Regions from separate parts of the Homo sapiens genome. Here all the other regions are linked to region 1. The links come from fine-mapping of genetic effects on gene expression. A gene starts in region 1. Each other region holds a variant in brackets. All regions are shown on one strand. Distances are between the middles of the regions. Region 1 holds the start of MED21 (mediator complex subunit 21). Region 2 has its middle 16 kb from the start of C12orf71. Region 3 overlaps TM7SF3 (transmembrane 7 superfamily member 3).

The links. PIP is the estimated chance that this variant, and not a neighbour inherited with it, causes the effect.
Region 2: its variant is fine-mapped to the expression of MED21 in pancreas (GTEx, PIP above 0.99).
Region 3: its variant is fine-mapped to the expression of MED21 in caudate (GTEx, PIP above 0.99).

Annotation. Positions count from the first base shown.
Region 1 is chr12:27,016,613-27,027,067 of GRCh38, forward strand. It overlaps MED21 (mediator complex subunit 21), which reads left to right and starts at 5,946. Exons shown (of 4, transcript NM_004264.5): 1 at 5,946-6,009; 2 at 9,808-9,922. The coding sequence starts at 5,968. RefSeq lists an enhancer at 5,978-6,267.
Region 2 is chr12:27,093,556-27,104,010 of GRCh38, forward strand. It overlaps the pseudogene LOC124902904. Among named protein-coding and RNA genes, the nearest start is that of C12orf71, 16 kb to the left of the region's middle. The variant C/T (reference allele first, on the strand shown) is at 5,230.
Region 3 is chr12:26,993,372-27,003,826 of GRCh38, forward strand. TM7SF3 (transmembrane 7 superfamily member 3) reads right to left here. Exons shown (of 12, transcript NM_016551.3): 2 at 9,865-10,019; 3 at 6,155-6,305; 4 at 3,371-3,491; 5 at 1,866-2,037. Among named protein-coding and RNA genes, the nearest start is that of TM7SF3, 16 kb to the right of the region's middle. The variant A/G (reference allele first, on the strand shown) is at 5,376.

The sequences.
Region 1 (10,455 bases):
CAGAAACATCTAAAACAACCTAAATGCCCAACAATTAGGAGTTAAATAACCTATGATAGAGCTTTATAAGAGGATCCTGTGCAGCCCTTCATTTATATTCTGATTGAAGTCTTTATGAAAAGGCAAGTTATGATGCAATAAGTATATATAGTACGTGGCTTTTTTTTTTTTTTAACATACATCTTTTATTGACTCAGAGGAATGGATACTTTTGTTGTTTGTTTGTTTTTTTAAATGGAGTCTTGTTCTGTCCCCCAGGCTAGAGTGCAGTGGTGCAATCTTGGCTCACTGCAACCTCTGCCTCCCGGGTTCAAGCAATTCTCCTGCCTCCGCCTCCCAAGTAGCTGGGATTACAGGCACACACCACCATGCCCGGCTAATTTTTGTATTTTTTTTTAGTAGAGATGGGGTTTCACCACGTTGGCCAGGCTGGTTTGGAAATCCTGACCTTGTGATCTGCCCACCTCGGCCTCCTGAAGTGCTGGGATTACAGGCGTGAGCCACCACACCCGGCCTGTAATTTTTTTTTAAGAGACAAGATCTCACTATGTTACCCAGGCTGGCCTTAAACTCCCAGATGTAAGAATTAAAGAAGAAAGAAACAGGAAAGGTGGCTTAGAAGTCAAGGACAAGTTTATTTTAGAGAAAACAAACCTGAAAGGGGCTTCTGGCCAGTTAGGTTAGAGGCACACTCTCTTACGGACTAATAAGAGTTTTTAAGGATTTAGGGTGGGAGAGTTTATCAGAGGCTTGGACTGCTTCTGTGTCTGTTGTGCTTATCTGGGAGGGAGAGTTGTGTGTCTGTTCCCATACATCTTTTTGCAGCTGCAGGCATACCCCCGAGTCTGCTTTTAGCTTCCCTATCTTAGTGCACCTGAAGGGAAAGGAATGTACTTACTAAGGCCCACTGTTTTACTGGGGCCCATTGTATGAGGGTGAAGTTTGGCAGTTACCCAAGAGAATTTCCCCCCACCTCCCTTTGTGCCTGAGCTGTCTTATCTGTGTTTTACTGTCTGCTCTTTCTGGCTGCTTATAGTTAGAAGAGAAGTGATTTCCTTGAAATGCATGAGGCTAGAAAGGGAGCTGGAACTTAAAGTGGCGGTGTTTGTCCGAGATGACGGTGCTCCTGGTCTGTCACCAGACTCAAGCAATCCTGCCACCTCAGCCTCCAGACTAACTGGGACTACTACAGGCTCACACCACTGTGCCTGCCTTGTTTTCTTTGTAGTATGCATTCCTGGTTATGTACATAGAAAAAAAGGTTGAAAAATATATGCCAAAATGTTTAAAATAGTTATCTTTAGGTGGTTAAATTAAGAATGATTTCCTTTGCACATTTCTGTGTAAAAGTTCTACATTGAAGTGTATCATTTTTAAATAAGAAATTATGATTTTGTAAAAGATACATATAATTTTAAAGGTTTTCTTATAAAAGCATTCAAGATATAAGTCCACCTTCCTGAGTATGACACATAAATGCTTTTTGTGATGCAACTCCTGCTCACCTCCCTAGGTTCTTGCTGCAACTAAAATCAGACCTCTACATGCTGGCCACATTGAATTAATTTCAATTTCCTGAACTGAGCCTATTCTCTCTCCTCCATACCTTTGCATCGCAGTTCCCCAGGCCTGCAGTTGCCTGTGCATGCATGACAGTTGATGACAAATGTGTCAGCAATCAGAACAGGGCCTCATTACCTTGGCTTCTAAGTACAGTATTGTGACAGCTTGGGAGGATGATTGGCTGGGGTTCCATGCTCATGTCAGAGTTCCATTGGAGAGCTGAGAAGCAAACAAGCTTAGCAGCTTTGCAGATTAGTTCATTTTTCCTATGTATTGAAAGGAAATGCAGAAACTGAAAGATTCCCAAATCCAAGATATGCATCATTAGAGGCTTAAAGTCTGTTTAGGCCAGGCGCAGTGGCTCATACCTGTAATCCCAGTACTTTAGCAGACCAAGGCAGGAGGATCTCTGGAGACCAGGAGTTCAAGATCAGCCCAGGCAACATAGTGAGATCCCCATTCTTACACACACACATACACACACACACACACACAACCAGAAAAAAAAATTAGCTGGGCATGGTGGGGCACATCTGTAGTCCTAGATACACAGGTGGCTGAGGCTGGAGAATTGTTCGAGCCTAGGAGTTTGAGTTTGCAGCGAGCCATGATTATGCCACTGTACTCCAGCCTGGGTGACAGAGCAAGACCCTGTATCTAATAAAACAAAAGTCTGTTAAAATTTAGAAGAGGAAGGAAGGGCAGGAGGGAGAGAAGGAGGAAGGGAAAAAACTTACCCTAGCTTTTTAAATAAAACCTAAAATACCTTAAATGGAGCTGGGAGTGGGGATCCAGGGAAAAGGCAGGATTGAACCTCTGTGAAATTTGCCCATTCATTCTTTCCCACTCTAATCTCACCTTCATCCTGTATTTTTTAATTCTTATGCTCTTTTGTGGGTAGTAATTTACATTCTTTGTTCATTAAGTTAAATTCAGTAAATGCTTGTTTAGTAGCTATTATATGGAAATTATTATGCTAGGAAACTCATTCATTTGGTTGATAAATATGTGCCAGGCTAAAAGTTAGGTGCTAGGTACTGGAAATATGGAAACAGAATATGTTTTCTGCCTGCAAGTAGCCCATGGACTGGTGGGTGAATTAGCGTGATGTACAAATAATTACAGCACAGTATGCTAAGTGCAATAACAGAAGTGTAAGGAACAATTGTGTTAAAGATTGGGAGCATTTAACTTTCAGAATTCAGGAAAGGCTTTTATAAAGAGATGTTTAAAATAAGATTTTGTTCACTAGTATAGTGGCAAGTAAAAAAAATAATAATAGGCCGGGCACAGTGGCTGACGCCTGTAATTCTAGCACTTTGGGAGGCCAAGGCGGGTGGATCACCTGAGGTCAGGAGTTCAAGACCAGCCTGGCCAACATAGCAAAACCCCGTCTCTACACAAATACAAAAAACTTACCCAGGTGTGGTGGCGGGCACCTGTAATCCCAGCTACTCTGGAGGCTGAGGTAGGAGAATCACTAGAACCCTGGGGGCAGAGGTTGCAGTGAGCTGAGATCGTGCCACTGCATTCCAGCCTGGGTAACAGAGTGAGATTCTGTCTCAAATAAATAAATAAATAATAAAATAAGGTTTGAGTACTGTGTGGACAATCACCAAGGGAGCAAAGTGGAGATGTGGATGGAAGTGTAGGCATTTCATACAAGGAAGAAATAATTATAGGTGTTTTTATATGGTGTGCATTTTTGTAAAACAGCAGAACATGTTTAGGGAATTTCAAAGAGTGTGGTATAGAAAAATGCTTATTTATAGTTATTCATCCCGGCACTAAGAACAGTTTAGATATTTAATAAATTGCAACTGTGAGTATTAAAGTTATTTAAAAATTGCTAAAGGTGTTTTTCTTAAAAAATAGTTGCTACAGTCATAAAAACCAAAGCATTTACAAGATTGACTGAGTGGCTCACTGCTGAAGCTGTAAAGGGTATGCGAGGGTTCACTATACTGTCTACTTTTCTATATCTTTGAAACTTTTAATAATATAAAGTTTCAAAGAAAGTACTCACCAAAATTGTGTGTTTAAAATATGAGATCTGTAATACTGGGTTCCTGCTCCTAAAACCATATAATCCAGTTGGCGATGCAACAGAAGCAAATGGAAAAGCATATGAGAAAGTGTCCAAATCATGAAAGGAAGAAAGGAGAGGTCCCTATGGACTCTAGCAATTCATAAAATTTATATGAGAAGTGTACAGCTTAAAAAGGTAGGGTAAGGATTAAATAGCAGGAAAGAAATTGCTTTGGGAAAGGTAAAGAATGAGGAAAGAGCTAGACCAGTGGTTCTCAATTGGGGGCAATTTTGCCCCCCAGCAACATTTGGGACTATCTGGAGATACTTTATGTTGGCATAAATGGATTGGGGGGATGCTACCGGCATCTCAGGGGTAAGGGACAGGGATGCTCTAAACATCCTACAGTGCACAGGTCAGCATCCCACAGCAAAGAATAATCTAGCCTGAAAAGTCAAGAGTGCAGCCATTGAGAAATCCTGAGCTAGATGCACAGACTATATTTGGCAGGTGGGTTATTCTTGAAGTCTACAGCTTCAAGAGCTTCCTAAACCCCTTTTCAAATGTAGGCTAAGTTGAGAGTCTGGTCTGGGGAAAGGGTCCACAGCTTTTATCTGATTCTTAAAAAGATCCGTGGCCGAAAGAGGCTGAAGAACCAGGAAAACCAAGGGGTCAGGGACCTTGGCTGAAACAGATTATTTCACTCAGAAAATTATCAGGAGGTGAGGCTGGGTCTGTTTGCTGGAGCCAGATTATAGTAAATCTTGAAAACCAGGCAGAGATAGTTGGACATCAACCTGAGGTCTCTGTGGAGGCACAGAAGACCTATTAGGAAGATAATGGCAGGACAAAAACTGTGTCACAATATGAATGTCTTGAAGTGGCTTCTCTACTTCAACTGCCCAAGTTCCCTTCAATCAGGCTGCAAAACTTAGTATTCTTATGGAGTGGACTAAACTATATCCAATCAGTCACCAATCCATATTAATTTTTTTTCTCAAAAATATATTTTAGTCTTTCTTTCCCCGCTTATCAGGGTCAACACCCTATTCTAGGCCCAGCTCATCTTAATCTTGGACAACTGCAAAACCTTCCTTAGTGAGTCCTTGGCTTATTCATCTTTGCAAATTGAGCACTGGATATACTTCCTGGCATGTGGCAGCCATTCCGTAAGGTACACTCTCAAGTGAGGGTGGGAGGAGAAGGTTGTAGAATCCCCCCAAGTTACAGTGAAAACAAATTACAGAGTGATTTCTCATTAGTCCCATTATGGGGAACATGCCTCATCCACGTTCTTAATGAGGCTCCAGTAAGTCTGTAGACTGTTTGGGGCTGAGGGTGGGGCATTGGTGTGAAGCAGAAGTGGTGCTTCACAGTAAGTGTTGGGATAAATCCAACAAGCTGAGTTCCCCAGGGACTGTGTCTTCCACCTTCCCCGCAGCCACAGGAAGGTAATCACGGATAATCAGCCTGAGAAAGAGGATATGAGAGTTTTTTGAAGTCTACAAACCTGTTATTTGCCGATTCCAAACTCATTTCTTACCAGACTATCCTCAGGCTAAATTTCCTTAAATACCAAGTTTCGATTATCACTTTTCACACTTAAACTCTCAATAAGTCCCAACTCTAAATCTAAATTGTGCAGCTAATTTTTCTTGGCCGAGCACGGTGGCTCACGCCTGTAATCCCAGCACTTTGAGAGGCCGAGGCGGGCGGAGCACGAGGTCGGGAGATCGAGACCATCCTGGCTAACATGGTGAAACCCCGTCTCTACTAAAAGTACAAAAAAAAAAAAAAAATGCCGGGCGTGGTGCGGACGCCTGTAGTCCCAGCTACTCCGGAGGCTGAGGCAGGAGAATGGCGTGAACCCGGGAGGCGGAGCTGGCAGTGAGCCGAGATCGCACCACTGCACTCCAGCCTGGGCGACAGAACGAGACTCCGTCTCAAATAAATAAATAAATAAATAAATAAATAAATAAAAATAAATATATTTACTCTTCAATTTGGTCAATAAATAAACACGAGAGGGTACGAGAAATTACTTAAAAAAAAAAAATCCCCGCAGAATCCAACAATCTCTGAAGCCTTTAACACCTAACAACCCCAAGGGGAGTATTTCGGCTCTTGGACTGTATTTCAAAGCGATTGGACCCCAGACCATTCCCCCAGTTACTCAAAAGATCCAGCCTCTCCTCAGGTGTAGCCCGCTCTAGAAAGGCCGCCTCGGGAGTACCACCCACTCCTGACGGGGCGGGGAGTTCTCTCCGACCCCACCCGTTCCAAGGACGCAGCCCTGTGATTGGCCATGACGCGTGCCAGAGCTGCCCAGTCGCGGAAGAGCAGCTGTTTTGGCGTCTGTTTGCTGCGGTAGGAACATGGCGGATCGGCTCACGCAGCTTCAGGACGCTGTGAATTCGGTGAGGAATTTCATTCGATTAGCCTCTGTCTTTCTCTTTCTTGAGGTAAAGCAAGGGAGGAAAGGGGCCCAAGAGGCAAAACTTGAAAGTGGGGAGCGGACTGAGAGACAGGGCTTCGGCATAAAGCGCTCTCTCGGGAGGCGCCACCGCGAACTCGGAGGTTTGAGGCCGGCTGCCGGGCGGTGCTTGAAGGTGCGGGAGGGAGCAGACTCTTTCGCTTGAGGAGACCGGGAAGATCGTTCTTGTCCGGGTGAGGCCGCCAGGACTTGTGGGCTGCGCGGTCCTGTCGTGTTCCCTGAGGACAGTTTTATTTTCTTGTCAGTGGTGCTTACGGGTTCTCTTTCTTTTGGGGGTTGGGAGGAGAAGCAGGAGCTTTTTTCTTTCCTCATCAATTTTAATCCACCAAGGGAGATCTCATGCTCTGGATGACTGGGTTTTTGTAATGAAATGTCAGCCGAGAGTATTCCTTCACCAGCGCTTTCAGGTTGGTGCGGGAGCGATGCTGAGGTGAGGTGAGAGATTTTCTTTCATCTTAGCTCGTTCCTTTGGGCCCAGAGTATCCTTCCATCTCTTGCCTCTTGGCCATCCCTCAGAATACATCAGTTTGGGGACATCTTTATGATAGGAAATCTTCTAATCCTCGTATGTCTTTCCGCTTATTTGAGTCTTTTTTCTTTTCTTTTTTTTTTTTTTTTTACTTTGGAGACAGTGCCTTTCGCCCAGGCTGGAGTGCAGTGGCGCGATCTCTGCTCACTGCATCCTCCGCCTCCCGGGTTCAAGCGATTCTCCTGTCTGAGCCAAAGTAGCTGGGATTACAGGCGCCCTCCACCACGCCCGGCTAATGTTTGTATTTTTAGTAGAGACGGGGTTTCACCATGTTGTCCAGGCTGGTCTCAAACTCCCGGCCTCAAGCGATCCTCCCGCCTCGGCCTCCCATAGTGCTGGGATTACAGGTGTGAGCCACCGTGCCCGGCCTACAAGTCCTTTTTAATGTCTCCCCCAAATTCTACTCTCTATTAAAGGCCAAGTCTAGTAAGTAGCTCCCCAGCTTTGTTCCTTCTGGTTATTTTTCCTCCACACTATGCCTGAGTGGAAAGTAGAAGCAAAGCCAGAGGATGCGCAGTCATGGGCCCCTAATGAAGGGGTCATGTTCTGAGAAATGCATGGTTTTGGCGATAACTTTTTTTTTTGTTTTAATAAGTAGAAGTACAATGTAAAATAACGATAAAACAGTAATACATAAACCAGTAACAAAGTCATTTAGTATCATTATCAAGTGTCATGGACTGCACATAATTGTATGTGCTATGCTTTCATACACTGGCAGTGTGGTAGGTTGATTTACAGCAGCATCACCACAAGCACTAAGGAACGCATTGCGCTACAGCGTTAGTACTGCTACGATGTCACTAGGCAATAAGAATTTTTCAGCTTTATTATAACCATAGGGGACTGACATAATATGTGCATCCCGTTGACCAAGACGTCAGTGGGTATTCCCATGCGGCAATGGGTGTACTTATTACCATTACGAGTTAGATTGTTTTCTGCTAAATAGTTTTCCATTGATAGTTATGTTTCTCATTGTCTGATTGTGATTTAATGTCCTAGATAAGGGGCTAGAGAGAAAACATGCTGATAGGAAAACCTAAGTACCTGGTTTCCTTGCCAGTTTTTTTTTTCCTCACTGTAAGCTAATAACTTGGCATTTTTCTTAATACATCAGAATTTGTACACTTGAAGAGTGTGAATCTACTTGTGATAAAACTGATCTACCCTGGGTGAATAACACTAGTTTTTAAGCTGAGAGGACCAGCCTCTAAGTGTTGAATTCACCAAGATAAATTCTACCCTGCAGGGACTTGCCTGGGCTGCCAGCCAGCCTTCCTCAGGGAACTACTCCTTTGAGGTTTTACGAAATCAAATTGTAATGATGCTGCTGGATAGAAATCTTATTTTAGGGAAAATTTTGCATATTCATACATGTCTTGTAACTAGAAGGATAATAAGGACAGAGTGAATATGGCCTTAACTCCAGGTTAGGCATAATGATAATTGGATTTTGGAGAAAAGCCTTTAGGATAACTAGTATGAGTGCCTACTGTGTGTAAGCACCATCATGTTTACAAAGAGATACTCCTAAAGGAGGTTAAAAAATGTCAAATACTCAGGAGACATTTAAGTGATGGAAAAACAGTATGTGGTTAGGGAGTTATAATGAATTGAGTATTTTCAGCTTCAGGTTCTGATGTAAATTGGAATATGGAGTGATGTGAACCAAAATAGGGGGAATCTTCTTAGCATTTATCCTAATCAGAATTATTTGTATAACTTTTAACATTTGTTCTACCCTCTGAAAACCGTGAGTGCAGAAGCTATGTCGCATTCACTATGTCTCTGTAGTGTTTATATGCAGTACTTTAGTTATTTTCCATAAATTTTTGTTGACTAAATGGATCTTAAAAGCTTTTGAAGGATGGAAAAGATAGACACTGTGTTGAATATTTTTTTGTGTGTGTTTCCTCTATTACAACAATGCTATAATAGGAGAATGTATCCAATTTAAAAATGAAAAATGCTGCTTGGATTAATAGAGCTAGGATCAGGATCTAGGTTTGTATAGCATCTGAGCACTTATTGCTCCATTACAATTAGCAAAACCTGGGCAAAGCCATTTAGTCATAAGTGACTTTATGACTAGTTAGATAAATATGAAGGAGTAGTGGAAAACGAGTCAGTAGAGTTGACTTAGATTATTGAAAGCTTCAAAACAGCCTGAGTTGGAGATTTATCTTGAAGACAGTGGTGGAGTAAGCTTAAATGTTTTGATCAGGTTAAAATAAATAACCTGGTGAACTGGAAAACAACAAGAAGACTATTGTAATAATTCTGGTGTGAGATAATTGGTTGAACTAAGCAACAGTGATAGAAGGAAAAGAGAAAGATTTGTAGTATTAGCAGAATATGAAGATCAAAGGAAAGTAAGAATCTGAAGTTAGATTGGTTGACTAGGAGACTTTCAATACAAATTAAATATTAAAAAGAGGAAACAGTTGCCTTTGAGTTCTGTCATTGAAACAATGGCAGAGAAACCCAGTGGAAATACTTATTAGAAATAGGAGGTTTGAGAGGTCAAGACTAGGTGAGAGAAATTGGTAGGGAAGATAGGTGTATTTAATTTGGAGATGGTAAGGAATTGCTATTCCCAATCTTTAAAAGTACTTAAGGAATACTTTTAGAGTACAAGAGTTTACAAATTGAGTCTTGAACAAATACATTTCTGCTTACTTAAGGTGCTTTTCTGAGCAGCCTCTTCCTCACTATTTCTTTACACTTGTAACTACTCCAGTCTCAGAAAAGGAATCATATACTTTGTGCATGAGAAATAAATTTTTATTAAACATGGTGCCATAGATATTTACAAGTCAAATTTGCTCTTTTCCATCACTATCCCCAAAAAGTCTTTACTTGTGGCTTACAATAAGTATTGGCCAATATTCTCTTATCATTTTACTATCACAAGAAAAGAAAGATTATTTTGTATTTCAACTGTTTCAACTAGATTTATATCAAATTTAACTTTACCTAGATTGATACCAAACTTAGTTTCTTTGCAGAATTAAAACGTTTAATCAACATTAATAATAACTGGCTTATTTTATCAACAATCACTCCTTTCTGTTTTATTCCCTTGCTCAGAGATTATCATTACAGAAACTTATTGTTGTTGCCATTACCAATAAAGTCCTTAAAACTGATAAGTCCTTTCTAACCTTGATATGTTTTCTTTGGCCTAAGCTTGCAGATCAGTTTTGTAATGCCATTGGAGTATTGCAGCAATGTGGTCCTCCTGCCTCTTTCAATAATATTCAGACAGCAATTAACAAAGACCAGCCAGCTAACCCTACAGAAGGTAAACAGGTTTTCTTAGCTTCTCTTAGTTTGACTCTCACATTTTTTGTAATCCTTTAAAATTAGATTTCTTGAGAAATTCAGCTTATTTTATTTCTAAAATTATTGTTGTTTGAGAATATTACAAGTTTTGTTTGTTGTAAAAAATTTACAGTCAATTCACCTAACATCTCATAATTCTGGTTCATGTCAGATAATAGATTGTTACTCCTTTAGAGGAGAATTTGTATTAATTTAGCTGAGTGAGGGACCTTAACAAGGAAGGCATCCCATTTATAAATTTCTTTATTCAGGTGACCACTATATTGTCATAATAAATGAAATTACATACATTATGCTTAATTCCCAATTTGAGCTAAATGTGTAACAGGATTGGTGTATATTTTAATCATTAGAATCTTCTTTTTTTTTTTGAGACGGAGTCTCGCTCTGTCACCTAGGCTGGAGTGCAGTGATGCAATCTTGGCTCACTGCAACTTTCGCCTCCCGGGTTCAAGGAATTCTCCTGCCTCAGCCTCCTGAGTAGCTGGGATT
Region 2 (10,455 bases), 77 kb after region 1:
AATGACTACTGGTTGCATAACGAAATGAAGGCAGAAATAAAGAGGTTCTTTGAAACCAACGAGAACAAAGATACCACATACCAGAATCTCTGGGACACATTCAAAGCAGTGTGTAGAGGGAAATTTATAGCACTAAATGCCCACAAGAGAAAGCAGGAAAGATCTAAAATTGACACCCTAACATCACAATTAAAAGAACTAGAGAAGCAAGAGCAAACACATTCAAAAGCTAGCAGAAGACTCTCTCCTTAAAAATATTCCTAGAACTACTAAAAAACTTGCATTTACAAAATAGTGGGTAAAAATATTCCTCTGGATTGTACAAGAAGGGAGTCAGGGACACTGATAAGACATAGTATGTGATATTACTCAGACTCTTGATGTCTTTATCTGTGGCTTCATCCGAGGCTGGACTCTCCTTGTTTTCAGTGTCTCCACTTTCTGCAGATAAATCTTTAGTTTCTTGATCAGGCACTTCAGCCTGTTTTTACCTTTTTCCTCTTTCATTTGCTTTTTTTTTTTTTTGTCTGAAGATTTATCCTTTCCTGCTGCCTTTTTGGGCTTTGTTTCGCTTTGTAGGAGCAGGTTTAGCTGACCACCTTGCAGATCTCTTCATGGGGTCTCCCTTCACCGACCCTTCAGCTGAGCTAACCTTCCTCTTGGACATCTTGGTGGCATGGAGGGTGTGGGCTGGGTGTCTGCAGGCTGTGGTGCACCGAGAGCCTTCCCAAAACTGGGCTGCCTGGTCACAGCTGCTGCTGTTCCCATCCGAGAACTGCGATCTTATATTCAGCATGCAGCCAAGTACTTCTAAAACTCTGATCAGAACTGCATGTCTCAGATTTTATTTTAGAAAACCATAGGTATGGAATATCATATTTTATTATGAAGGCCTTTTAATTTGCTGCTTTATAGAAGTCTCAACTCTAAAACTGTACTCATGGTCATCATCCAGTGTTCTTTAGAAATGGCATCCTCATCTGCCCATCTTTTCAGTACCACAGGCTGGCCTCATCCTGGACGTCATTCCTTCTCTCACACACTTTCATTCCTGCATACAGTCACTCAGAAAGTCCCGTCGGTCCCATATCCTAACATATGTTACATCTGTCTACTTCTGTTGCCTTCACTACCTCCACCTGGTCCAGTCTACCAACTCCCAACTGGCTCTTCCCACATCTTCTCGGGATCCCTTCTGGTTATTATTGTATAGGAGGCAGAGAGACTTTTTTTTTTAGAAACACAAATCATATTTAGGTACTTAAGACCTGTCAATGGCATCTGACTGTTTTTAAGATAATCTTTAAATTCTCAAAATGGTCCCATGGGCCCTGCATGACATGGCCTCACCCACATTTTCAGGCTCATTTGCAGCCATTTCCCCTTTTGTTCTCTACACTCCGGTCCCACTGACTGTTTCACTTCCTGAACTGAAGGTGTTTAAAGCCACTGCTCTTCACGGAGATAATCCTAGATGAATATCCCAGGGGTATCCATAGAGAAGAGGGTGAATGTGACACTTGCAGATGACATTTTAATTAAGATTAAAACTGACAAATGGCCCCAGTCTATTGCTTTTTGAAAACAAGGTCTTGGGAAAGAACCACTACTTGTCCTTGGAGAGCCTGGGCGAATTAGAAAATGGTGCCCCTCCAGGTGAATGCAGCCCCCAAGCTGCATGGATTGGATTTCAGCGTCTGTGCACCCAGGGTGAGACACTCTGTGAAGGACATGACCTGCACAGCCAGAATGGTGACCTCCTCTGGAGATCTCAGTCAGTTTGCTTCCAAATTAAAACAAGTTTGGAAGCAAATTTGGCTAGGATGACATTGTATATTTACCTTTCCAAGCCAGCATGGTTCTGTCTATGATGCTAGTTCTGTAGCTATTTTTCAGAGTTGAAGACCAGGTGTGATTTACAACCTAGAGTGTCTCTAGCTGCTGGCATCTAAGTTTGGCACTGAGCACTTAAAGTGCCCAGACCATGATGTTTTACTGTGTGGAGGAAGGCCTCGTTGGAGAGGCACAATGTTTTTTCATCTGACATGTTTGCTCTTGTGGAAATGGCTTGAAGTATTTGAGTGCTGGCAGCAGAAAACATGGGAGGAGACTTAATTCTTGCTGAGTATGAATGATCCTATACAAATTAAAACTGATCACTTTTAAAGGCCGTATAAAACTATTCATCAATCATTAGATTGCTTTGATGTATATATCATATATCTGTGTGTCTCTACCAGGATCCTAGCATGAACCTCTCCCTGAACAAACACTGAATAAATATTGCTATGATTTTGCTTATACTTTTGTCATTGACTTAGAGACAGTTTTGTTTCTTGTTTTTAACTCTGTGTTGAATATGAGTTCAGTTAGTTTTCTGTTTTTTATGTTTATGGAAGTACCTCAATTTTACTAATGGTGAGGCGGGGAATATAGGAAAGTATGAAAAACAACCACACATGCACAATTGCTTTGTAATTTCAAACTCTAATGGACACTCTCTGGAGGTGATTGCCATATCTCTCAGTAGGAACAGAATTTGAATCTGGGAGCAAGTAATCAGTCTGTAAATGTTTGTTATGATACTGGAATTGCCAAATATGCTGTATCTAATTGAATTTCATTACTGGGGCATGAAAGGCAGTTGGCTGAATGTTGTCACTGAAAAGAATATATTGTGGACAGCAGATTGTTGCCTATATAGTGCTTGTATAAAAACCCTATATCCAAATAAGGTCACATTCTGAGGTTCTGGGGCTTAGGATTTCAACATATAAATTTTGGAAGGACACAATTAAACCCATCACACCATCCATAGTTGAACCTCAACACAAATTAGCCTCAGAAATCAAGCTGTATTTATTTTGTGTTTTTTTAGCTATGCTTATTTTGGAATTGTATATAAACTGAACCTATTTCCATAAAGTAGTTGAATTTTATTCCTTTTTTCCAGACCCAATAGACCTCATGGTATTAGTTCTGCAGTCAACATTGTGCTTGCTCTCTCTCGCTCTCTGACTCTCTGACTCTATCTTGCTCTCTCTCTCTCTCTCATGTTTCATGAGTCATTAGGCCAAAAAGTATTAGGTAAATGAAAGCAAATATGACAGCAGCTCCTTGAACAAGGGGACCACTTCTTTCCCCCTCAAGTCCATGACCTGTAACATGTCTAACATTCCAGTTCTGAGGATTTTAAAAGTAGTTAGTTGATCTGTAGTGTGTTTTCACTTGACATCTTGCTTTAGTTACGCCATTCTTGCATATCCCTCATTTTCCACATTAGCCTCGTTTAGTTGTGCAGTTTTGACATTCACAGCTCTCCAGTGCTTTGGATTGAATGTTTATACCAAGAAATTGCAGCTGGCTTTTCTAGCAGGTCATTCTGATGTTGTCCAGGGATGCCATCAGAGGTGCAGGTTCTTGAAGCACCTTTTATACTATCTTCCTTTTCTACTCTGGGCCTTTCCCAGTTTCTGGGAGGTCAAGGCATCTGCCAAGCCTCTCTCTCTGCAGCCCACTGACATCAGGCATACTTGTATGCTCCATCTGTACTTTATTGCTTTTTGTTTGTCTGTTTGTTTGTTTGTTTGTTTGTTTTGAGACGGGGTCTCACTCTGTCACCCAGGCTGAAGTGCAATGGTGCAATCACAGCTCACTGCAGCCTCGACCTCCCAGACTCAAGTGATCCTCCAACCTCAGCCTCCTGAGTAGCTGGGACTACAGATGTGTGTCACCACACCCAGCTAATTTTTGTTTGTTTTAATAGAGATAAGGTCTCACTATGTTGCCTGGCTGGTCTTGAACTCCTGGGCTTAAGCGATCCTCCTGCCTCTGCCTCCAAAAGTGCTGGGATTACAGGTGTAAGCCATGGCGCCCAGCTCCACCTGTACTTCAAAACTCACCCTACTCCCTGTTCCCGAAGCATGTCACGTGCTAATGTGACTGGTATGTACCCTCTTAGCTTCTGGGCCCTGAAATACAACCCATATTTTGTTCCCCCTATCCTAAGAGATCAGGTGGAATGGAAGATTGTCTCCCTTTTTATTAAATGAGTCAAATTTTGTCTCTCCTCAAGTATATTCCAAAATATCAGTAACCTGTTAATAAAACGGCTTATCCCTTCAGAAAACAGAATTTAGGGTGGGTTAGATAATACACATAATCATCATCATCATCATCATCATCATCATCCATACCTCTCTAAGCCTGTAGCAGGGTGGAATAGCATGAGCTATTGATTGTATCTGAGCAGAGGAATGCTTGGTACCCCATATCTCTAGAAGAAATTAGGTGGCTTGAGAGGCTCTTTTAGGTCTGAATAATTTCAGTGCCAAAGACCAAAACCTCTTCATAAACTGCAGTTAGACTCTCCCTGATTGCCATGCCTGGCTTTCTGTTGGAGAAAATCCTAGAGGAAAACAGAAACTCCCAAGGAGCTGGGTAGCCAAGAGAGGAGCCCAGACCTTCCATCTTCCATCTGGTGACCTGATGGTTCTGGCATTTGACTTCTCTGAAGATAAGAAACCCTGGGTATTACACATAAATTCCAATATCTGAATTGACAAAAGTACTCTCTCCAGGGTAGATATGCTATCAGAGCTTAGATGTAAGGATGTTTTAAAAATTTCATTCACAGAGCTGAAGTGTCAGGCCCAGCAATATTTCTTTGGCCCTTGACGTCAGTCCTGTGAGCTAGCTCTCCAGCACTAGGGACTATTCTTGTGTTTAGTTTTACCTCCTCTTTCTTGGGGTAGATCACAATCAAATAGCTCCCAGTTCCTTCCTTTGGGAAGACAATGACCTTGCCTTCCCCACACACATCCATAAAGCACTACTCCTTGGACTCCACACCCCAGGTCCAGAATAGTCAGGGTGGCTACTCTAGGACTAATCTCTCTTCCTATCTCCTGGTAAAATGGTTTTAGTAGATATTTGTCCCTAGCAGCTGTTAGTTTCCCCTCTCATCACTATATTAAGACATCCTTGGCCATGCATGGTGGCTCATGCCTGTAATCGCAGCACTTTGGGAGGCTGAGATGGGAGGATCACTTGAGCCCACAAGTTCAAGAGCAGCCTGGGCAACATAGGGAGACCTTGTCTCTACCCAAAATAAAAATATTAGCCGAGTGTAGTGGTACATACCTGTGATTCCAGCTACTTGGGAAGCTGAGGCAGGAAGATCACTTAAGCCCGGGAGGTTGAGGCTACAGTGAGCCATGATTAGGCCAC[C/T]GCACTCCATCCAGCCTGTGTGACAGAATGAGACTTTAAAAAGGAAAGAATAAAAAACCTTCTAGCCCAAGAATTCTTTAACTTTTTGCTTACACATTTGGGCCTTCCTTATTTTTCATAAGGAAAAATAAATTTTAATACTCTATTACTCTTTAATAGAGGGCAGGAATTGAAGCATCCTGAGATGAAGATAATTCAAAGACATCCAATACAGATGGCATAAATAGCAAAACTTTGAAAAGTATATTGTTCCCCAGCCTTGTTTTTAGGCTCAAATAAACACCCCATTAAGTAGAATGTATACCCTGATCACTTAGAATACTCAAGTTTCGAGGTGCCACTTAAAAATAAGGCAGATGCTGTACTTAGCTAGGGAAAAGGTATGTCTCTGGCAGGTGGGATCCCTTCACCAGGTCCATGAGATGGACTTAATTGGAAGCAAATACAGAATTGGAGATGGTCAATCAAACGGAAGCTCCTCAGTTCCTAGATCAGTTTCTGGTACATGGTAAGTGGGTAAATGGTAGGTAAATGAGATATACTCCTTGAGTAAAGTAGGTAGGTAGGTAGGTAAATGAGAAATACTCTTTGAATAAAGAGTAGGCAAATGAGAAATACTCTTTGGTAGGTAAATGAGAAATACTCTGTGAATAAAGTACAGTTGTCCCTTGGTATCCATGGAAGATTTTTTCTAGGCTCTCCTGAGGATCCCAAAATCAATAGAGGCTCAAGTTCCTTATATAAAATGATGTAGTATTGGCATATAACCTACATACATCCTACTATATACATTAAGTCATCTCTAGATTACTTAGAATACCTACCACAATGCACATGCTATGTAAATAGTTGCTATACTGTATTTTAAAATTTGTATTTGTTTTTCTTTGAATATTTTAAATTTGTGGTTGGTTAAATTCATGGATATGAAATCTGTGGATATGGAGGGCTGACTATACATATATATATATAATTATGTATATGAGTAAATGTATGAATTTATTCATGTCACTTTGGAGCACTAGTCATGAGACAGTAAAATGTGGAAAATCCTGACTATATTGGTCTTTTGGTAGCCCTGCCCATGTCACTCAACATGTAGCTGTGGTAAAAGCAAGTTTTCAAGTTCCTGTCAAGACAGTTCAACACATTTCCTCTCTTCTGCTTCTCTGCCTCCCTCATTCCCTCTCTTCTTAAAGTTATGGGTTGTCAGAACTTTTATTGAAATGAAAACAAAATCTAAGTTGATACTCTAAGACATGAAAGAGTCAGAGTCTAACAAGTCCATTAATATTCTATTCTTTCCTCTGCAGTACTGCAAAGCATGTTTGGTGGTGATAAAGGAATAGTTTTGTTTTGATGGATACAAATAGTTATTATTTATTTCATGATCACCATGGTAAGTGTAAACCAAAAATAAAATTCCAACCACCTGAATGGACCCCTCCTCTCGGCCAAGGGCATTCCAAAGTTAACCCGAAAAACTAGTTTAGGCCATGATGGGAAGGGGGAGCCCAACATTACTCATTATTCCCTCCTCCTTTTTGGAATTACTGATAGAATAATCTTTTAAAGTCTGATAAGAAACATTGACAGTCTATTCTCTGAAGCTTCCTACCTGGAGGCTTCATCTGCATGATAAAACCTTGGTCTCCACAACCTCTCATCTTAACCCAGACATTCCTTTTTATTGATTCTAAGTCTTTAGATAATAACAACTTTTTTAACCCATTACCAATCAGAAATTCACTGAATCTACCTATGATCTGGAACTAACCACCCTAGTTGTGCTCCCTTTCTGGACTGAACCAATGTAGATCTTATATGTATTGATTGATGCCTTATGTTTCCCTAAAATTTATAAAAGCAAGTTGTAGCCTGACCACCTTGGGCACATGTTCTCAGGATCTCCTGAGGGCTGTGTCATGGGCTATTTGTCACTCATATTTGGCTCAGAATAAATCTTTTCAAGATATTTTACTGAGTTTCACCCTTTTCATTGCCATAGATCTGGTATAGAAATTTTAAGAATGGGTCCTTAGTCCTTAAAAAGCTTGATTTAGTACAGGCAACACTCCAAGGACCTGGTTAGGCAAGACTGCTTGCCAGAGACATACTTTTTCCTTAGCCAAATATAACATCTATTAGAGATAACCCGTGGTTCCATATGGTACTTGGTAACAGAGGCTGAGAGAGAATGGGTGTGGGGAGAGACAACAAGTGCTATAGGAGTACTTGATGATGTGGTAATCTTCCTTGAGTATTCTGCCATGACATTCAGTTTTTATATATAAGATCCAGGCACAGTTGTCACTGGGTATTCATGGGGGGTTGGTTCCAGGACCTCCCACAGATACCAAAATCCAGAGATGCTCAATTCCCTGATATAAAATGGCATTGCATTTGCCTAAAACCTTGGAATCTCCTCCTGTATACTTTATATCCTCACTAGATTACTTATAACACCTAATACAATATAAATGCTATGTAAATCTTTGTCGTATTGTTTAGGGAATAATGACAAGAAAAAGTCTGTACCTGTTTAGTCACAGACGCAATTTTTTTTCAAATATTTTCTATTCATGGTTGTTTGAATCCACTGATGGGGCACCTATGGATATGGAGGGCTGGCTGTATTTCATCAAATTTCAGTGTAAAGGATGGCAGGGTAATGACTCACCTAGATGATACTTTTATAGTTCCTCCTGTTTCCTTCCTTTGGTGGATGAAGGAAATGCTGTCATACTCAGAAGTTGAGAGTGGGCAGTTACTTGCCTCAGTAAATGGCCACTCCATCCTCCTATGGCTTAGGCCATAGTCTTGAGTTCATCTTTTCTCCCAAATGCTCTATCAAGTTCTGTTAGCGTTTATAACAAAAATATACACAAGGCAATAGAAACGTTGCTATCTTGTTAGGGGTATGTTCATTTGTCAGAATGCATCAAACTGTGCAGCAAAGAGCTGTGCATTTTACTCTCTAAATTATAACTTAATTCATATGTGTAATGCATCCTAATATGTATGGTAATATACATTTTATATTCAGAATATATATATAGCAATATGCATTTTATGTATGTATATATACATATTTACTATATGTGTATTCACACATACGTACATAGCTAGTGTCCAATCACCATCTCTACTGCTCACACCCTGACCCGAGCCACCAACAGAACCTCTCATCTGAATTGTTGTAGTCATTTTTTGACTGTTCTTGTTTTTATCTTTGCCACACCTGCAGTGTGTTCTTAGAAATGATTCTTCTTCTTTTTTTTTTTTCTTTTTTTTGAGATGGAGTCTCGCTCTGTCGCCCAGGCTGGAGTGCAGTGGCGCGATCTCGGCCCACTGCAAGCTCTGCCTCCCGGGTTCACACCATTCTCCTGCCTCAGCCTCCCGAGTAGCTGGGACTACAGGCGCCTGCCACCACGCCGGCTAATTTTTTTTGTATTTTTAGTAGAGATGGGATTTCACTGTGTTAGCCAGGATGGTTTCCATCTCCCGACCTCGTGATCCGCTTGCCTCGGCCTCCCAAAGTGCTGGGATTACAGGCGTGAGCCACTGCACCCGGCCAGGAATGATTCTTCATAAAACAGAAATCAGATCATGTCATTCCTTGGCTCAGAACCCTCCAGTGGCCTTCCATCTCCATGCTCAATTGAAGTCAAAGCCTGGCTGCCATGGCTTGTGAGGCCCCAGATCCCACTACCGCACCACTCCCACCACACCTTCTGTGCCTCTGGGACCACATTCCCTACTAACCCCCCGGCTCACCACCTTCCAGCCCACTGACCTCAAACATCAACTACATGAAGCTCCCCCTCCTCGGGGCCTTTGCACTTACTGTTGTTTCTCCCTGGAATCTCTTCCCAGATATTCCTGTGACTTTCTCCCCTCACCTTCTTCAAGGTTTTAATCAATGTCACTTTACCAATGGGGCCCTCCCTGATTATCAGATCAAAACTTCTAAGTCCCTGCCATTCCCTTTCTGCACGAAGAGCTGGCACAGTATATAATTAAGCGGACATGCTCTGCTGCCAGACTGTCTGACTTCACATCATTTTTCTAGCTGTGTGACTTGGTGCCTCAGTTTGATCACTAATAAAGTGGGGATAAGTATCGTGTCATTAGGGTTATTGTAAAGATTAATTGAATTGATATATGAAAAGCACTAAAAAACAGTGCCCGGTACATAGTAAGCTAATGTTAATGTTATTCCTCTTGCTTGCTTCATTATTTTTCCCATAGCACTTATCAATCACCCTCTCATCTGCTATGTATTTAAACTATTTTTTGTGGTTTCTTGCCATTAGAATGTATGTGCCATCAGAGCAACAACTTTTTACTTTTTTTCCTTTTCTATTTTCTTTCTTTGCTTTTTCTTCATTACTTTTTAAATTCAATTTAAAAAGAAAATTGAGTTGCCAGCTTCACCACTTAGAATAGTGCCTGATATACAATAGGTACTCAATAAATATTGTGTAATCAGTGGGTGAATGAGAGAAGAGTCTGTGCACTTTCAGGAGGCTGTAGGATAAGGTAGGTTAGGGAAGGGGCTGGAAACATTTTCTGCAAAGAGCCAGATAGTAAATATTTTAGGCTTCGTGAGTTACAACTACTCAACTTTGCTGTTGTGGCATGAAAGCCACCATAGATGATATGTAAACGAATGAATGTGACTGTGTTCCAAAGAAACTTTATAAAAACAGGCAGTGGGCTAGATTTGACCATAGGTCATAGTTTGCCAACTCCTGGGTTGGGGAATAATTTTTGGCCTTACTTTCCCCCTCATTACTCCTCCCTTCAGCCAGCAATTAGTGCTATTCACTCAGAACTGAAATATGAATAATTTGAAAAGCATTACATTACCCCTTAGTATTTGGCTCAGTATACAAATTTTCCATATGTCTCTTAATATTTTATTAGGAAATAACAATGTTAAGAATATATTTTGAACTTTCCAGCTGTACAGTTTCAGGGCTCTGGTTTTCATTTCTCTTCTCCAACAGCCGAAAACTGGTGATTCTGGCCAGGAGCACGTGTGCTATAAAGGAACAAGCAGTGTTGGCATTCCTCTTACTGTATGGCCAAGAGTGTAACTGACACCCAGTTGGAATAGAAACCAACAGAAATTACCTACAAGACAAACTGTTGAGTTTATAAGATTATTTATGAAAACTTATTCCTCCACAAAACTGTTTCCTAGCCCACAGTTTTTACCAG
Region 3 (10,455 bases), 23 kb before region 1:
CACAATTTTGTGTCTAACTTATTCTTTTATCCCCCATATTTCCTGTAAATAGGGAATCCAATGGACTAAATTCAGGTTAGACATTTTTTGCTAGAATATACCACAGGTGATGGTGATAATGTCAGACTGCACTACATAAGCACGTAATACAGGCTGATCCATTTTCAGTGAAACTAGCTTTGCCCACCTGGAATAGGTGGAGACTATAAGGTCACTCCATGTTAAAGTGGTTCTCCTTTTACAATGAGAATTAATCTAAGGATGCTACTTAGACACCCTAGAAATATCCTGTTCCCCAAAAACCTTTCACCTGCTGATCCTTGCTGGAATTATTTCATTGAGGGTCACAAAATGGTGATCATCTAATTCTATTATTTCTTCTACATATATTAGCCAGCACTCTTCTGCAAAGAGCTTTCTCTCACCAACTGGGGAAGAATTAGTTCCTCCTTTAAAAAGGCAAGCTAAATTTCTTTATCAATTTTTAGAGTAATTTGCTGTAAGAGTCTCCTCCAGTGGTGGCAACTGAGGAAGGTTTCATTTGTATTTATTCAAGGCTGACAACCACAGTCTTTTTCTTGATTCTTGAACTGCCCCAAATTTGGCAGTGCAAGCCCCTTCAAACAGGCTCCTGAATCTCTTTGACATACCCTCATTAGTCTTTGAGGGTTTCCCCACATTCTGGTACAAAATATTCTTTTAACTAAAAGTTTAAAAGTAACCTACAAAAAGCCTATTATACAAGTTCTTATATTCTTCATAAAAATAATAATAGTATTAAAATGTCATATCTAATAAAGCAACTAATAAACTTTACTAACAGAGCTTCTTATTTTGTGAATAAGCACAATGACGCTGTCTAGAAAAACTCCACCCATCAACCATTAGACTGAAGGATGACCTCATATATTATATTGCTGTTAGGCACTTTTCAAGACATAAAGATAAAATCCTGCCCTCCACAAAAATGATCTATTGCAGTGAGTCTCAAAATTTAATATGCATAAAAATCACCTGAGGGCTGGAGTGCAACAGCACCATCTGGGCTCATTGCAACCTCCACCTCCTGGGTTCAAACAATTCTCCTGCCTCAGCCTCCCAAGTAGCTGGTATTACAGGCATCTACCAACATGCCTGGCTAATTTTTGTATTTTTAGTAGAGACACGGTTTCACCATGTTGGACAGGCTGGTCTCAAACTCCTGACCTCAGGTGATCCACCCGCCTCGGCCTCCCAAAGTGCTGGGATTACAGGCGTGAGCCACTGCACCCAGTCAGAATCACCTGAGGGATATAAAATGCAAATTCTGATTCAGTAGTTCCAGGGTGGAGTTTAAGAATTACAATTCTCACAAACTCCCCAGTGATGCCAATGCCACTGGTCCATGGTCCACACCTGGGGAGCAAGGGTTTACATGGATTCAAAAGCTCAGAGAAGAATTTTACTCCAAGTTAGACTTTGAGTTTGGGTTCAAATATGAATGCCAATGTGTATATCCTTAAGCAGTTTCTCATTATTTTTTTCTCAAAACAATGTAATCTTCATACTTGCCAAAAATGTTTACCCAGTAGTCGTGGGAGTACACAGAAAATTACCACCTCCTTCCATTCACATTTCAGATTACCAAGTCACAGATGTGGCTGCAACTAAAACGTAACATAATTTACATGCATCTCCTCAAAGGCCAACATCATTTTGAGATATCACCAGCAAAGACTCCCAAGATGATAACAAAAGAGAATAAAGTGAGTGTCCCCCAAAAAGGAGAAAAGAGTAAAGAAATAAGATCCTGGTAGCTTCTCCCCTTCTCAACTCTGACAAAGGTGTCACAATCCAGCCACACAAATCATGGGACTCAGATTTACCTTGAGAGCACTGGCCTTCACCTGGGGCACACTGACCATCCTCTGCAGATGCTTCAGCAACATCTCCTCAGTGAGGTCATTCTCAGGCAGAAAATACTGATAGACATCATACTGCAACCTCCACCTGGAGTCCTGGTCTGTCCCAGCGTCACATGGTGGGGGATCTACGCCTCTAAAGTCAACCAACAAAATGAAACATCAGTCTCTTGTGGTGCAAGTCCCATCTATAAAAAGGAACCAAGAGCCCTAATTTCAAACACTTGCAACAATAATTACAATTTAACAGTTCACCTTTTGCAGTGGCAACAATTGGTATTCTGAAGAAAAGTAATGCACTGTTATGGACTGAATGTTTGTGTCTCCCCAAAATTAATATGCTGAGACCCTCACTCCCAGTGTGATGATATTAGGAGGTGGGACCTTTGGAAGGTAATTAGGTCATGAAGGTGAAGCCCTAATGAATCGAATTACTGCCCTCATAAAGGAGATCCCAGAGAGCCCTCTAGCCTTCTTTCTGTCATGTGTGGACACAATGACAACCCAGCAGTCTGTAACCTGGACGAGAACCTTCACCAGAACTCAACTGTGCTGGCATCCTGATCGTGGACTTCTACCCTCTAGAACCATGAGAAAGAAGTTTATAAGCCACCCAGTCTGTGCTACTTTGTTACAGCACCACAAACTAAGACAAACACCAACAGGCAAAGGTGATTACATAACTGGATTCTGATATCAGTCAGGCCTAGAGTAAAATACTACAGCTCTGGGGAGGCAAAAAAATTTTTTTTAAAAAAAAGCTGGGTGCAGTGGCTTATGCCTGTAATCCCAGCACTTTGGGAGGCTGAAGCAGGAGGATTGCTTGAGCTAAGAAGTTCAAGACCAGCCAGGGCAACATAGAAAGACCTCATCTTTGATTTAAAAAAAAAAAAAAGAAGAAGAATATAGCAGATTTGTCATTTGTTAGCAAGTAGGGTAACCTCCATAACCCCTAGGGAAACTTTCTGTAAAATAACAGCAATTGCCCTTCTTCATAAAATTGTTAGGATTAAATGGCAAAGAACATAACAACACTCAGCACCACGGACAATGCACAGGAAGCATTCAAGTGTTCTCAAATGTTAGCTATCATTACTATTAAAGCAGAAACTGAGGCACAGCTTTAATTAAAACAATGAATCTTTATAAAAATAAAAGGATGTTTCAGGGCTACTGAGTGCTATCTATATTTAAAGTGCTTTATAAAAACCAGGATGTATTTTCAAGCTCATAATAGACTCACATCTGGCTCTTCAAATAAAAAGAGTTCACAAGAATGAAGTGGGAAAATATTAACTGTAAATGACAGTCCAAATATTAATAGTGAAGTTTAAATTACATCAATTCCCCCCAAAAATTAACTCAATTTTACTACAGAGAATTAGGGACTTGAGAGAGCTGGTCAAATCTACACAACTGTCGTCATGTATATTCTAAAAGCATTTCTCAGACATGGGAGACAGACGTACCTCGCATAGCCTAGGTTTGCTGGGGCAAACTTGATAGTCGTTTCAAAGAAATTATACTCCAAGTAAATGTTGGGATCAATATCTAAATCGAACTCCAAATTACAGCCTCCAGGGACAGGATCTGGATAAGAAATAGGGAAGTTACTAAACAAACAATTCCTACATATCCAAATCATACTCAGAAAAACAGAACTCTATCTACTCTTACAAAAACTTCCCAAATAGAAGTTAAATATAAACGTAGAGCTTCTAGTCGTATACTATTTCATGAACTGAGGTTAAAGAGGGTAGAGTTAACTGAGGTTCAGGGCCCTAGAGCAGGGCAGAGCCAAAATTTTCTGTAAAAGGCCTAATAGTATTTTAGGCTTTGTCAGTCTGATGGTCTCTGCAGTAACTACCCACCCCAGTCCTTGTGGCAGGAAAGCAGCCACAGGCAATACGTACAGGAAGAGGCATAGCTGTGTTTCAGTAAAACTTTATGTACAAAAACAGGCAGCAAGCTGGATCTGGCTCATGGTCTGTAGTTTGCCAACCTTTCCTCTAGAGTTAAAAAGATCGGCTATTGGTTGACTACTTCTGGCCAGGTTTGGAATGCAGATACACAGTGTGTATATATGTTTCAATATCATGTTGGAATCTTCCTCCAAATTCTATGCTCTTCTTTCATACTCTCCTTTTTCTGCACTTATGGATCTTTACCACACCACAAATGGTATGTATGCCAGCTGAAGCTCCTCTGTTCATAATTTTTCTTTGTACACTGTCCTTGACGCAAGCCTTAATTAAGTCTATGGTTTCTTATCAGGTAATTAGCCTTTTGTTATAGCTAACATTTCCTATCTTCTACTCCAGTAATCTTCTGGATTCTCCCTCCTTTCCTAACTAGCGCTCCCTCTCCTTCCCTTTACCCCCAAGCTTTAAGAGTAGTCTAAATTTATTCACCTCACCTTCACTCCTCCATCCCTGTTGTGCCACTAAAGTGACTCTCATAAAGGGCCACCGCTGACTCCTACTTGCTCTAGCATACGGACACTTTCAGTCAGTTCTCTTGACCTCTCCGTAGACTGTAACTTACCACTTCCTTTTTTTTTTTTTTTTTTTTGAGACGGAGTCTTGCTCTATCACCCAAGCTGGAGTGAAGTGGCGCAATCTCAGCTCACTGCAACCTCTGCCCACCGGGTTCAAGCAATTCTCCTGCCGCAGCCTCCTGAGTACCTGGGATTGTAGGCACCTGCCACCACACCTGACTAATTTTTGTATTTTTAGTAGAGATAGAGTTTCGCCATGTTGGCCAGGCTAGTCTCAAACTCCCGATTATATAAATTATACCTGCAACCTGCTTCGGCCTCCCAAAGTGCTGGGATTACAGGTGTGAGCCACCGTGCCCGGCCTGCTCCCTTTTAAAGGCAGAAACTCCAGGCTTTCTTCCTACCTTCTTGACTACTCCACAGTGTTGTGCTTATTCCTCAGGAGTTATTATCCACCAGAAACAGTGCCTGACACATAGTAGGCACTAGTAAAGTATTTGCTATGATTTTTTTGCCCTAAATATCCAAGTACATGCCTGGATAATCTCACTCACTGCCACAGCTTTTATTAACAGCTATTTAGTTGGGAATCTAATCTCACCCCTCCACTCCAGGCCCTTATTTAAATTATGTACTCTGCATTTCCATCCAAATGTCCTACAAGCATCTCAGACTGTGTCCCAAACTGAAGTCATCACCTACTCCGTCCCACCTCCCAAAACATCCAGCACCACCATAACCCTGTTCCTACACCTATTTTGTATCACTATTTCCCTGCTGCCCAAATAGGAAACCTATGCTTCCCTCTTATACTCCATAACCACCAGTCATTGTGTTGTATCAATTCCACCTTCTGGATATCTCAAATCCTGCTCCTCTTCTCCATCCCGCCTCTCATGGCCTCTGTTCAGATCCTCATTTCTCATTTTGTGCTGAGTCCTGACTCTGCTGCGCCCTCTCCAATCCATCCCCACACT[A/G]CTTCTAGAGTTAGCTTTCTAAGAGATGAAATGGACTACACCATTCCTCTGCTTAAAAACTCTATGCCTCCTTAGAACCTACCTCGAAATAAAGTACAAACCTCAAATTGTATGCAAGGCCCTCCACACTCCAGCTGCAGCCACACTCACAACGTGCCATTCTCCAAATCATTTTTCTTCATGACGTCGAGCTTACTGCTTCTGCTTAGAACAACTAAACTGTTAAGGACTATGTCTTGCCTTAACTATTACTGCTTCTCCAAGGGCTCCCTAAATGTTTTTCGAATGAATAAACATGTTCTCCTAGTCACTACCTGAGCTTTCAGTCATCGTGCTAATTCTCTTACTATAAAATATTTCTGATTATAGGCTGGGCGCAGTGGCTCATGCCTGCAATCCCAGCACTTTGGGAGGCTGAGGCGGGCGAATCACAAGGTCAGGAGTTCGAGACCAGCCTGGCCAACATGGTGAAACGCCATCTCTACTAAAAATACAAAAAATTAGCTGGGCCTGGTGGCGGGCGCCTGTAATCCCAGCTACTTGGGAGGCTGAGGCAGGAGAATCGCTTGAACCCGGGAGGCAGAGGTTGCAGTGAGCCGAGATCGCGCCACTACACTCCAGCCTGGGTGACAGTGCGAGACTCCATCTCAAAAAAAAAAAATCCGATTATATAAATTATACTTGCAACAAACAATCTCAATAGGATAATTTTCCTTAAAGTTTCATGAACACATTCCATATTCCAAAGAGTAAGAGGGAGGAGAAGACAGAAGGGTTACCTCTTTCTGAGTAGGAGAGTAGGATAGCCATATTCTGGACAGGCTGTATGCCTGAAGTCCCCAAGTACCAAGTGCATGTACTCTGCTCTGGTCTAAGGATGAAAACCAGTCCACTGGCAGTGCCTGTTTCCGAGGAATTGGAAAGGAGAGTCTGCAGTCCAGAAGAAACATTGTCATGAATAGGAAGTCGACCAAAACATAAATTACTGAGCTGATCCAGTGTGCATGTCCTATTCCAAATCTTCCCAAAACAAATAGAAAAAAAAAACCTTCCTTAAATAACCAGGGAATTCTTTTCATCTCTATGTTCACATGCCCACACATATACATGGAAAAAGCATTCTTGAAAAATATACGATTGTCTTAGTTAAGGCTGCTATAACAAAGTACCACAGGTAAGGTGGTTATAAACAACAGAAATTTATTTTCGCAATTCTAGAGTCTGGTGGTTCATGATAGCGGTGCCAACACAGTCGGGTTCTGATGAAAGCTGTCTTATAGGCTGAAGACTCCCAACTTCTTGTTGTATCCTCACATGACAGAGAAAGGGCAAGAAACATATCTGGGGTCCCTTTTATAAGGCCACTAATCCCATTCATGAGGGCTCTAAATGGGGGCCCATGACCTAATCACTTCCCAAAGACTCCACTTCCTAATATAACACACTGAGGATGAGTATTTCAACTGTGAATTTTGTGAAGACACAAACATTCTGTCTGTAAAAATAATCTTTGATCAGGAATAGCAGATGCACAGTGAAATTCCCAAGTGTTTCAATTAATTTGAATTAAGATTTACTATGTCAAATAATGTTTTATCTTAGTTTCTAAGACCACTAGGACAAAAACATGAGACCTGGCCCCAAGGAGTTCAGTTTTCGAGGTACCTTTTAAATTGTGTTATAACTGACAAACTATAAACTGTACATAAAGTATAATTTTTCTTTTTTTTTGAGATGGAGTCTCGCTCTGTCACCCAGGCTAGAGTGCAGTGGCGCGATCTCAGCTTACTACAAGCTCCGCCTCCCGGGTTCACGCCATTCTCCTGTCTCAGCCTCCCAAGTAGCTGGGACTACAGGCGCCTGCCACCACACCTGGCTAATTTTTTGTACTTTTAGTAGAGACGAGGTTTCACCATGTTAGCCAGGATGGTCTTGATCTCCTGACCTCGTGATCCGCCAGCATCAGCCTCCCAAAGTGCTGGGATTACAGGCGTGAGCCACCGTGCCCGGCCCATAAAGTATACTTTTAAGTGTTGATATACAGACACCTGTGAAACCATTACCACAATCAAAATAGCAAATGTATGCATCACCCCAAGTTTCCTTGTGCCCCTTCCTAATCCTTCCTCACACACTTCCTCTCTACCATCCCCCACTCCCATCTGCTTGGAAAGTTTTTTGAATAATAAAATGCTAAGCTAAAAGGTAACAGACTCAAGAGGTTCTATCAAAGCTAAGGAAATGGGAAGGAAAAGGTAGCAGAGTAGTTTCAATTTGATAAGCATAAGAAAGAATGACTCAAATATTAATTGATAAATGATCAAGTCAACAGTTTCAAAGAGCCAATTGCCATCACGACTCAAAAAAAACAAAAGTGCCACACTTTATTAGGAAGGGCACAGGAAACAGAAGCACTTCTCTTTACACAGACCACTCACTTCCTGAGCCATGTGCAGTTCTGGCCATCATCTTCTAAGTAATATAACAGTGGGAACTAAAGGCAGTCCAAGAAATAAAATGATAATTAAGGACAACTAAGACCCTTTCTGCATAGAAATCAAGGCCCAAGATGCTGCCAGCTAGGTCTGTTTTATCACTGGTGATGCTGACATCTCTTTATCCAAGTTCTGCTTCCTCAGATGTAGAAATAGGCATCACTACTAATTTGTTGAGCTTTAATGAGAATTAACCATATGGAAACCAAACACAGGGGTTCCTAACTGGGGGCCTGAGAGTCTGAGTTTTTGAAGGGCCCCATGAAATTTTATATTTATATTTGAGTCCATAGACTTGAGCAGTCTATGGCTCCAGGAGCTTAAGAACCACTGGCCTAGGACATAGCAGGCGTTCAACAAATATAAACCCTTATTTCACCCATCCTCTCTCTTTTCCTTCAAATGTTGTCTTGCTGTAATGTCATTAGGAAGAAACACACTGTTTGTCAATTAAAAATTGTTTTAATAGATCTAGTTAAAAAAGAGAAGAAGAAAGAACTCATCTATGTGCCATTTTACTAAGTCTCCTATGTAAGAGTCTGAATAGGAAGCTGTCTTTTGAATTCAGTGCCATAAAAAACTTGGCCTCCCCTGAGGAACTGGCATGCTCCTTCCTTTCTAAGGAAGTTATGAAATTTAACATGCTTTACCTTCTGCTTTAGCTGCAAAGAACTTGGGCAAATTCGACGTATGTGTGACATCGGTATCTCTTGTAATTAATACTATTTATTCCTTTCCTTTTTTCCTAAGCTGAATTCTTCCATTTCTAGTCTATTAACTACCCCCCTACACACATACCCCACAACACACACGCACACACGTGCACAACCACATGCACACAATTTCCAAACCTCTATGGTAGGGGAAAGAAGGCAGGAATAAAAATACACAAAATAGTAAGAAAGATAGTGTGACCAATGCCTCTAATATTATATATGGGCTGGGGCGCAGTGGCTCATGCCTGCAATCCCAGCACTTTGGGATGCCCAGACAGGCGGATCACTTGAGGCCAGGAGTTCAAGACCAGCCTGGGCAACAGAGCAAAACCCCATCTCTACAAAAAAAAAATGTTAAAAATTAGCCAAGTGTGGTGACATGTGCCTGTAGTTCCAGGATCACTTAAGACCAGGAATTTGAGCCATGATCACACGACCACATTCCGGCGTGGGTGATGGAGTGAGATCTTATCTCTAAAAAAAAAAATAAAAATTTTAAAAATTTACATATGAATTAGATTAAGACAGAATTGTTTACCAAATTCCAGAATATTATAATATAGGCTTAGGACAAATAAAAAGAAGTATAACTTCATACAAGGTGAAATGCATGTATTGGTCTAGGGCATCATAGAGACTAAATGCAGATAGATTGTAAAAGATTATATAAATGGCAGACTCTTCATAGCTTAAACTAACCCAGAGAATTTTAAAAACTTTCTAAGGCTGAGGTTGAGGTTAAGGGGTTTAGTGATGACATCTATAATAGAGTCCTTAATACTGCTGGAGGCATAGCACAGGGCTGGATGAACTGAGCACTATAATTTTTTTGTTGTTTGCGTGACAGAGTCCAAAGAATAAAGTTGATATTATAGGGTTCTTGGTAAAGTTCAATACTATAGCTAAACAACAATGAAAACCCATTAAACATATATTCTCAGGTAAAAGTTATTAAGGCCCCACTAAAGTAAGAAAATGAAAAGGTGGGAATTCACGAAGAAAACTTGCCTGCATAGTGGTGACATTTGTCACAGGGTGCCCTTCTCCCCAGCTCAGCTCTCCATTACCCCTTTTTAGGTCAGAGACTGCCACACTCAAGAAAGGCCTGAGATACTCTCAGTCACTAACTTGAAAACATCCTATCTTGATTTTTTAAAATTTAAGACATAAGATCATAAACATAAAAGAGATAGAGATATCAAATTCTAATGCTCATACTAAATACCAGACCCCCAAAATATAGAAATGATTTTTACTAAAATAATTCTTTGCACTTACCGGAGAAAAGGAAACAGTTGTATTCTGATACTGTGAGTGTATTTGGAAAATAAGAAAAGTCACATTGCTTGAAATATCATGCAAAATAGCTTCCTCTGGAAAGGGCCTATTGAGCTCGAAGTATCTAAATTTCCCCACAGAAAATTCAATAAGACCTACAACGAGATAAACTTTTCATTACAACACTTGTACTCTCATATCAATTTGCAGAAATCATATTCATAAATGAATGTGGAATTTAATCCTCAGAAAAACTCCTTGAGGTAAATATGGTTATTGCTCCTATTTCACTGCTAAAGACAATGTGGCTTAAAAAGTGATGCAGCCCATCCAGGGTCATCCAGCCAGTGAATGGTAGAGCTCAGAACTAAAATGCAAGAGGTATTTCAAAAGGTATGCTGAAGACAGGCTCCTGGAACCCAGAGAAACTTCCCCTCTGGTAGCAGCAATAACAATGATCTCTGGAACAGAGTCCCTGAATTTAAAGATGACAATCCTGTGGGGCTACTAACAATCATGAATGTGCTGGTGTTAAAGAACCATAACCGTCTAGTGAATTCTGAAGTCAGCGTAGCCCGAAGAGACACAGGT